2 linked regions of the Homo sapiens genome follow. The protein of the gene in region 2 purifies or fractionates together with the protein of the main gene of each other region. This does not show direct contact. Each region holds a gene or a part of one and is shown on either strand. Other genes may lie near its edges.

Region 1 (4,034 bases), on a different chromosome or scaffold from region 2:
GTATTTTGCTATAAATGGCAATTATGATAGTTTCCATTTATTGTTGCGTATTCTGTACCAGTTTTTCATGTATGATTAAACAGTCATCAGTGAAGATGAGGAATTATCAGATACTCTGATTACAGAAGAAAGAGACTGAGAGTAAGTACAGTGTTGACTACTCTTCCACAGTTATCTTTGTTAGTTTTGTAACCTCTACAAAAATGATCTTACAAGATAAGAATATACAAATGAAGAAACAGGTCCAGAAATGCTAAGTCTTTCAACATTATATAGCTAAATAAATAGAAGAAGCACCTGGCTTCAAAACTCACAGTCTTTTTTTGCCCTATATTTCCAGTCTGAAGAAAGAATAAAGGCAGGGTATAATACTTTAAATTCCAAATAGTTGGCACTGAATAGTCAGCTAAGACATGGATAAATATCTGGTACTGGGACAGAAGGTGGTTTTGTTCTACCTATAGGAGGTATATAGTCCTGTCATTCCAGGAAAGAAGTTGAAAAGAGGTACAATATACTGATGTATCACATTCAATCTGTTGCCAGATCCATGTTACTATTCAGGAAAAAAGAGTTGAGGAAGAAAAGAAAAACAGGTGACACATCTAAGTACTTCCTATGTGCTCATTACTTAACTAGTTCACAGCATTTTTAATAATTCAAGAATCAATTTGCAAATACCCAGATAACAGTTCTAACTGTTATTTCAAAGCCTTAACTACTTCTAGTAAATTGTTAAGGAATTTTAGATTTTTCCTCTCAAAACTGTGAGAGTAATAATAAAAATCTTCCATATTATCTTGAAAGAAACTATAGCAAATAGAAAAAGAGCCTGATGTTAGATGTCTCAAGTTTACTGGTGCATTTTTTTTTTAAGCTATGGTGTTTCAAGGGGATTTGTGTATGAACATAGGTAACAAATATCGTCAGGCACGGTGGCTTACGTCTGTAATCCCAGCACTGTGGGAGGCTGAGGCGGGTGGATTGCTTGGACCCAGGAGTTCAAAACCAGCCTAGGGCAACACAGCAAGACCCCATCTCTACAAAAAATACAAAAATTAGTTAGGTGTGGTGGCATGCACGTGTAGTCTCAGCTACTCAGGGTGCTGAGGTGACAGAATCACCTGAGCCTGGGGAGGTTGAGGCTGCAGTGAGCCATGATCGCCACTGCACTCCAGCCTGGGTGACAGAGTAAGACTCTGAGACCCTGTCTAAAAACAAAAACAAATGTCAAATTCAGGGCAATTTTTCTAAATGAGGTAATCTTATAAGAGGTATTAGTGATATCAAAAGCTCAAACAAGAAGGCTAAAGATTCAGTTTATTACAGTAGTTAAAAGCATGGACTATGAAATCAGACTGTGTAACTGGAACTAGTTATTGAACTTGTCTGTACCTTGGTTTCCTCATCTTTAAAAACAAGGAAATAGCTGTATAGCTGCCTGTAAGAGTTGCTTTAAAATTTGAACAAGACAACTAATATAAACAATTCGAAAAGGCTGACAGATGGCAAACACTCTGGAAGTACGGTCATATACCATATAACAAGATTTCAGTCAACAAGGGACTACATGCCGATGGTAGTCCCACAAGACTATAATGGAGCTGAAAAATTCCTATCACCCAGTGATGATGTAGGTGTCTTAACATCACAGCACAATACATTACCTTTTTTACGTCTAGATATGTTTAGACTCAAATGCCATTGTATTACAATTGTCTATTTACTACAGTAACATGCTGTACAGGTTTCTAGCCTGGGAACAACAGGCTATACCTTATAGCCTAGGTGTATAGTGCTGTACCATCTAGGTTTGTGTAAGTGCACTTCATGATGTTCCCACAACAACAAAATCACCTAATGATGCATTTCTCAGAACATATTCCCGTAGTTAAGAGATACGTAGTTTTAATAGAATTATTCTAAAATGCATAAAAAATTACCAAACCATTAGAAGAATTTAGTATATTCTGACCTCAAATACTACAAGGCTTTGTACTAATTATTAACCAAAATAAGAATATCTCTACTACAAATTCATGGAAAAGACAGGAAAGTAGGCATAGATAAATGGGAAGTGGACCAAATATCTTTCAAATTCATTGAATTTGTTTACTTAAAATAGCATGTCATGCTGGTAATATGCTTGGATCAATAAAAACAGATTGGCTTTGGTAAAATAGATGTAAAATGGGGAAATACTGGAAAACAGCTGTAAGCATGTATATGCTTATCCTGTAAGATGATTTCCTAACGTATGAAATCCAAACTATTAACCATGGGATTCAACCTCTATCAGATGTCACGTTTCATTTTCCATTGCCCTGTCTCAGTCAACCCTTTTAACTCTCTACCTCCATATGCTCTGTGCCTGCCTCTCTTATCTACCCAGGCAGACCTCTATCTTATATTACACCATATGATATTGCAATTGTCTTATATGCCTAGTTTTTCCTACTGGATTTGAGCTTTCAGTGAGATTAGGAACTATGTCTTGACTATCTTTGTGTCTGTTGTGTCTAGCACAGGACTTATCACAAAGCAAATGCTCAGTATACATTTAGTGAATAAATGATTTTAAAATGAATGATTCTCAAAAATCAATTATTAAAAAAAAATCACAGAAAAGAAACCCAGATCACTTATGGCCAACCTTAAAAGGTATCACTTTCTTTTTTTACACAAAAACTAATACTTTACTTCATGAAAATATGTTCTGAAATATGAGACCATTCAAGTCTGTATCTCTTAAAATGTTCAGTGTTATTTGGTAATAAAAGCATAAGGAATAATACAATAAATATCCTTATTTCGAATACACAGCCTGAGAAATGAAACATTAACAACAGTTTTAAGTTGCATAATACTTGTTTTCTAGCTTTCTGTTGATTTTATAGGGCAAAACCAAAGACAATTTTAAAGTGTAAGCATTTAAATAAATAAAAGTACACCATTGTGCTTTGTTTCCTTAACTTACTTTTCTGTTTTGAAGAATATTGCACAACCATCTACATGCTTTCTCTCCTGCTCAGACATGATTTTGGCACGTGACTTTGGAGAAAAAAATCCATCATATCCACGCTCCTTCAATGCTGGCAGAAAGAGAGTGAAGTATTGCTCTGTTTCCACTTCCTGAGATGAAAGAAAAGTTATCATCTATATGACAGAGGGAAAATGCTGATTAAGATATAAAAATGTTCAGCATTATGAGTAAGATGTAACTTAGTAAAAATAATTCACATAGCAAATATTATCTTACTATCTTACCTGATTGCTAGCAGCTGCTACTTGACAATGGCAGCTTTTTAAACATGAAAGAACCAGAAAGGTGACATGATTTTCTCATGCTCACACAGATAGTAACAGGAGTAGGACTACATCCCAAGGTCTCTTGATTCCCAATTTACAGTTCACTCCATTATACTTTACTTCCTCAAGACTGGCAACTAAACAAAGCAAGTTGGGTATATGATAGATTCTGTGATAGGGAATAGTAATTTATATATAAAAAGGTAATTTAAAAACTTGCATATCCTTCTGAACTATGGTGGAAAGAAATGATACCCAAGAGTGAGAAACGTAAAATCTATCCACAAAAAATTCTACTTTAAGAAATTTTTAAGTACCTAAATCGCAATCATCCAATGGCCTCTATTAATTTAATAATTATTAGTCTATTTTATTCTTTGACTCATAAAATATTTTAACAGGTCTTTCTAAATGAAATAAATATGAAGATAATTTATGTATGCAGATGTTTCTAACAGCATGAGTTTATGACAGCAAAAACCCATAAACAACTAAATGTGTCCAATGGTATGGGAAAAGCTACATCAATATACGTTCATATAATTAATGAGTTTTGAAGAATTTTAGTAACATGGAAAATCCATTAAGTACAATAAATAAGAATCAAAATGTATCTGTAAATATATTTTACTTAATGTATAGAAGAAAAATACTCCAGAAGTTTTAACACAACTATCTTATGACATGAAATTAGGTATTTCCCTCCATCATGCTTTATATTTTTT
Region 2 (2,940 bases):
TGGCCTCGGATTTCTAATCATAACAACCATGGGGTCAGCCTAGCCTCAAGTTTCTTAGTCCTAGCAAGTTCCGGTTTCCTACTGGTAAGACTTGCTTTAGCTGCGCAGGAAATGTTTAACTCCTGTGGAAATCTGGGTACCAGCGAATGCTTTTTTTTTTTTTTTAAAGGTTTAGCGATGACCAGTTTAGCAGTGTTGGGAGCTCTTATACCAAGTTTGGTTTCGCAATATCGAGTCCTGTCTTAGCTATGCTTGTGTGTTTTTAAAACTCCCGTGGAAGTCAGGAAATGCCGGCGATCGCGATGTCTCAGTTTTACCAAGCTCCCTTTGACAATAGCAAGTCCTGCCCATCGAGACTTTTTCCTCTTGTAGACCAAATCGGGATGTACCAGCTACTACGATTTTTTAGACGTAGCTAAACACGTTTAACCGTGGATATTTTTGTTTTTTTTCTCGTAGGAAATTATGACAGGAGCAACCTGCAGGGGTTTAGATCTGACAGAAATATTCTAATGGTAGGCATTGCATCGCTTAGCCATATTTGTAATTTCTTCTTTGTAGGGTTGGTTCTCTGTAACTTTTGCTTACCTTAAAATTATTTTTGTGTCTTGCTCTGAGGACAATGTTACCGATGTGTTTTTCATTTTTACTTGCATTTCAGACTTTCATTATTTTAAATTATGTATTTTTTTTTTCTTCTAATTTTGAGCGTCTCAGATTCGTGCTTCTTGACTTTCATTCTCTCAGGAGCCGGGGAGCCGAGCTCGGTCTTAGCCTCGCTGGTATCAGGTTCCGGGTTCTGTCTGGAGGCTCCGCTTCCTATGCAGAGCTGGCGGTTTTGTATCAGCACGTTTGCCAGTGGCGCCCACTGGGCGTTTTCTCAGTTGCTGCACCCAACGTGACATTTCCCGTTCGCGGGGTCCTTAGGTTCTCAGTGCTGTCACTTTTTCGCTCCTACAACCGCTAGTATCTCCTAGGAACTTCCTGAACCCCGTTTTGCCGTGCAGAACGGTGATTGCACCGAGCCGCTGTTCGCACTAGTAATTGTGTGGTACCATTAGCCGGCGCTTTTTCTGTCACAACCCATTAAAACGGGTTAAAACATATTAAACCTATCAAACACATTGAACGGATTAAAACACATTAAATGCCGCAACACATTTTTCTGGTACAACACATTGAAACAGAGTTGGTTCATTCCTCCAAACAGGTTGTTTAGGTGTGGAAGCACCGCTCTTAGTTCTAAGAGCATGCTGTTTCTCTTTAGCAGCACCCTTTACGGCGCCAAAACGGATATTTGTTTGGCAATACCAGCGCTATCCGCTAGGTGCCGGCGCTTGCTAAGTTCAACGCGCCAGTTTCTCGTTTGCAAGGTGGTTAGGGCAGAGCCCTAGCAGACAGTTTTCCGGTGGCAGCAACGCTCATTTCCCGGAAACGGGTGGTTCTTGGCCCTTGCGCGCTCTTGAATACCTGCGTTCTGTAGCGCTAGTTCTCTTCAAGATTTGCTTAGTGTCATTTCATTTCGGTTTCTTTTCTCGCCATGTTTTTCTGTCGGAATTACGGTTCGTTTTGGTTCTATGTACTCTCTAAAATGTTATCGTTTTTCATTTGTCTACTAATTTTCGTGCATTTGTTACTACTGAGTTTCTTAATATCTGACTGGCCTCCGCCCACGGGCTCTGCAGAGCATAAATACTCAGGCTGATGGTAGTGCAGAGACTCTCCCTCCTTGATCAGCGCAAACGTTGGTCTGAGGCTTGAGGGATGGAGCAACATTTTCTTGGCTGTGTGAAGCGGGCTTGGGATTCCGCAGAGGTGGCGCCAGAGCCCCAGCCTCCACCTATTGTGAGTTCAGAAGATCGTGGGCCGTGGCCTCTTCCTTTGTATCCAGTACTAGGAGAGTACTCACTGGACAGCTGTGATTTGGGACTGCTTTCCAGCCCTTGCTGGCGGCTGCCCGGAGTCTACTGGCAAAACGGACTCTCTCCTGGAGTCCAGAGCACCTTGGAACCAAGTACAGCGAAGCCCACTGAGTTCAGTTGGCCGGGGACACAGAAGCAGCAAGAGGCACCCGTAGAAGAGGTGGGGCAGGCAGAGGAACCCGACAGACTCAGGCTCCAGCAGCTTCCCTGGAGCAGTCCTCTCCATCCCTGGGACAGACAGCAGGACACCGAGGTCTGTGACAGCGGGTGCCTTTTGGAACGCCGCCATCCTCCTGCCCTCCAGCCGTGGCGCCACCTCCCGGGTTTCTCAGACTGCCTGGAGTGGATTCTTCGCGTTGGTTTTGCCGCGTTCTCTGTACTCTGGGCGTGCTGTTCACGGATCTGTGGAGCTAAGCAGCCTTAGATAGCAGCAGAAGGCTTTTTGGATTCTCCTCCTTGAAAAGATTCTCAGTTACCAAACGTCTCCACCTAGAAAATAAAAATACATTAAGATGTGCTTTCATTGCTGGTTGTCAGTTTTTAAATTCTCTTTTTCCCTTATGTTTCTTTCTTGTTTCGCGTCGCTTATTACTTTCAGTTTCCTTGTATTTTAAATATTTGTATTTATTTCATTAAATATTTCATTCGTATCTGTTTTCACTTTGAGAAATCTATTTTACGATTGTAGAATTCTTAGAGTTTTTGGCAAATTTAAAATTTGTTTTTTTCCATTGTATTTTAAAATCTTATTCCTACTATTTTTCTAATTATTGCTTTTTAAATGTATTGTTTGTTTACATTTAATTTTATATCATGTCTTTTACGTTATTATAACGTCTTTTTAATTTTAATTGTTAATTTTATTTTTAACAGCGGTCTTTCTTTTTTTCAGTATATCGATTCATTGTTTTACACTCAGGAATTTTATTCACGATCATAAGACTGAGAGGTTTATCAATCTTTGCTATTTCTCGTGGAAGGACCACGCAATTACTTATATTAATACAACTTCACAGAT

Evidence for each region.
Region 1: the proteins of ANXA2R (region 2) and CNOT6L purify together in Homo sapiens (affinity purification with mass spectrometry; one large-scale study listed by BioGRID and IntAct). This does not show direct contact.

The regions. Positions count from the first base shown.
Region 1 is NC_000004.12:77,739,164-77,743,197, forward strand, and holds part of CNOT6L (CCR4-NOT transcription complex subunit 6-like), read right to left. Parts: intron 3,157-4,034; coding exon of another isoform or gene 3,133-3,156; coding exon 2,978-3,132; intron 1,041-2,977; coding exon of another isoform or gene 945-1,040; intron 1-944. UniProt on the Homo sapiens protein: Has 3'-5' poly(A) exoribonuclease activity for synthetic poly(A) RNA substrate.
Region 2 is NC_000005.10:43,038,871-43,041,810, reverse strand, and holds ANXA2R (annexin-2 receptor), read left to right. Parts: upstream 1-1,491; 5' UTR 1,492-1,764; coding exon 1,765-2,346; 3' UTR 2,347-2,440; downstream 2,441-2,940. UniProt on the Homo sapiens protein: May act as a receptor for annexin II on marrow stromal cells to induce osteoclast formation.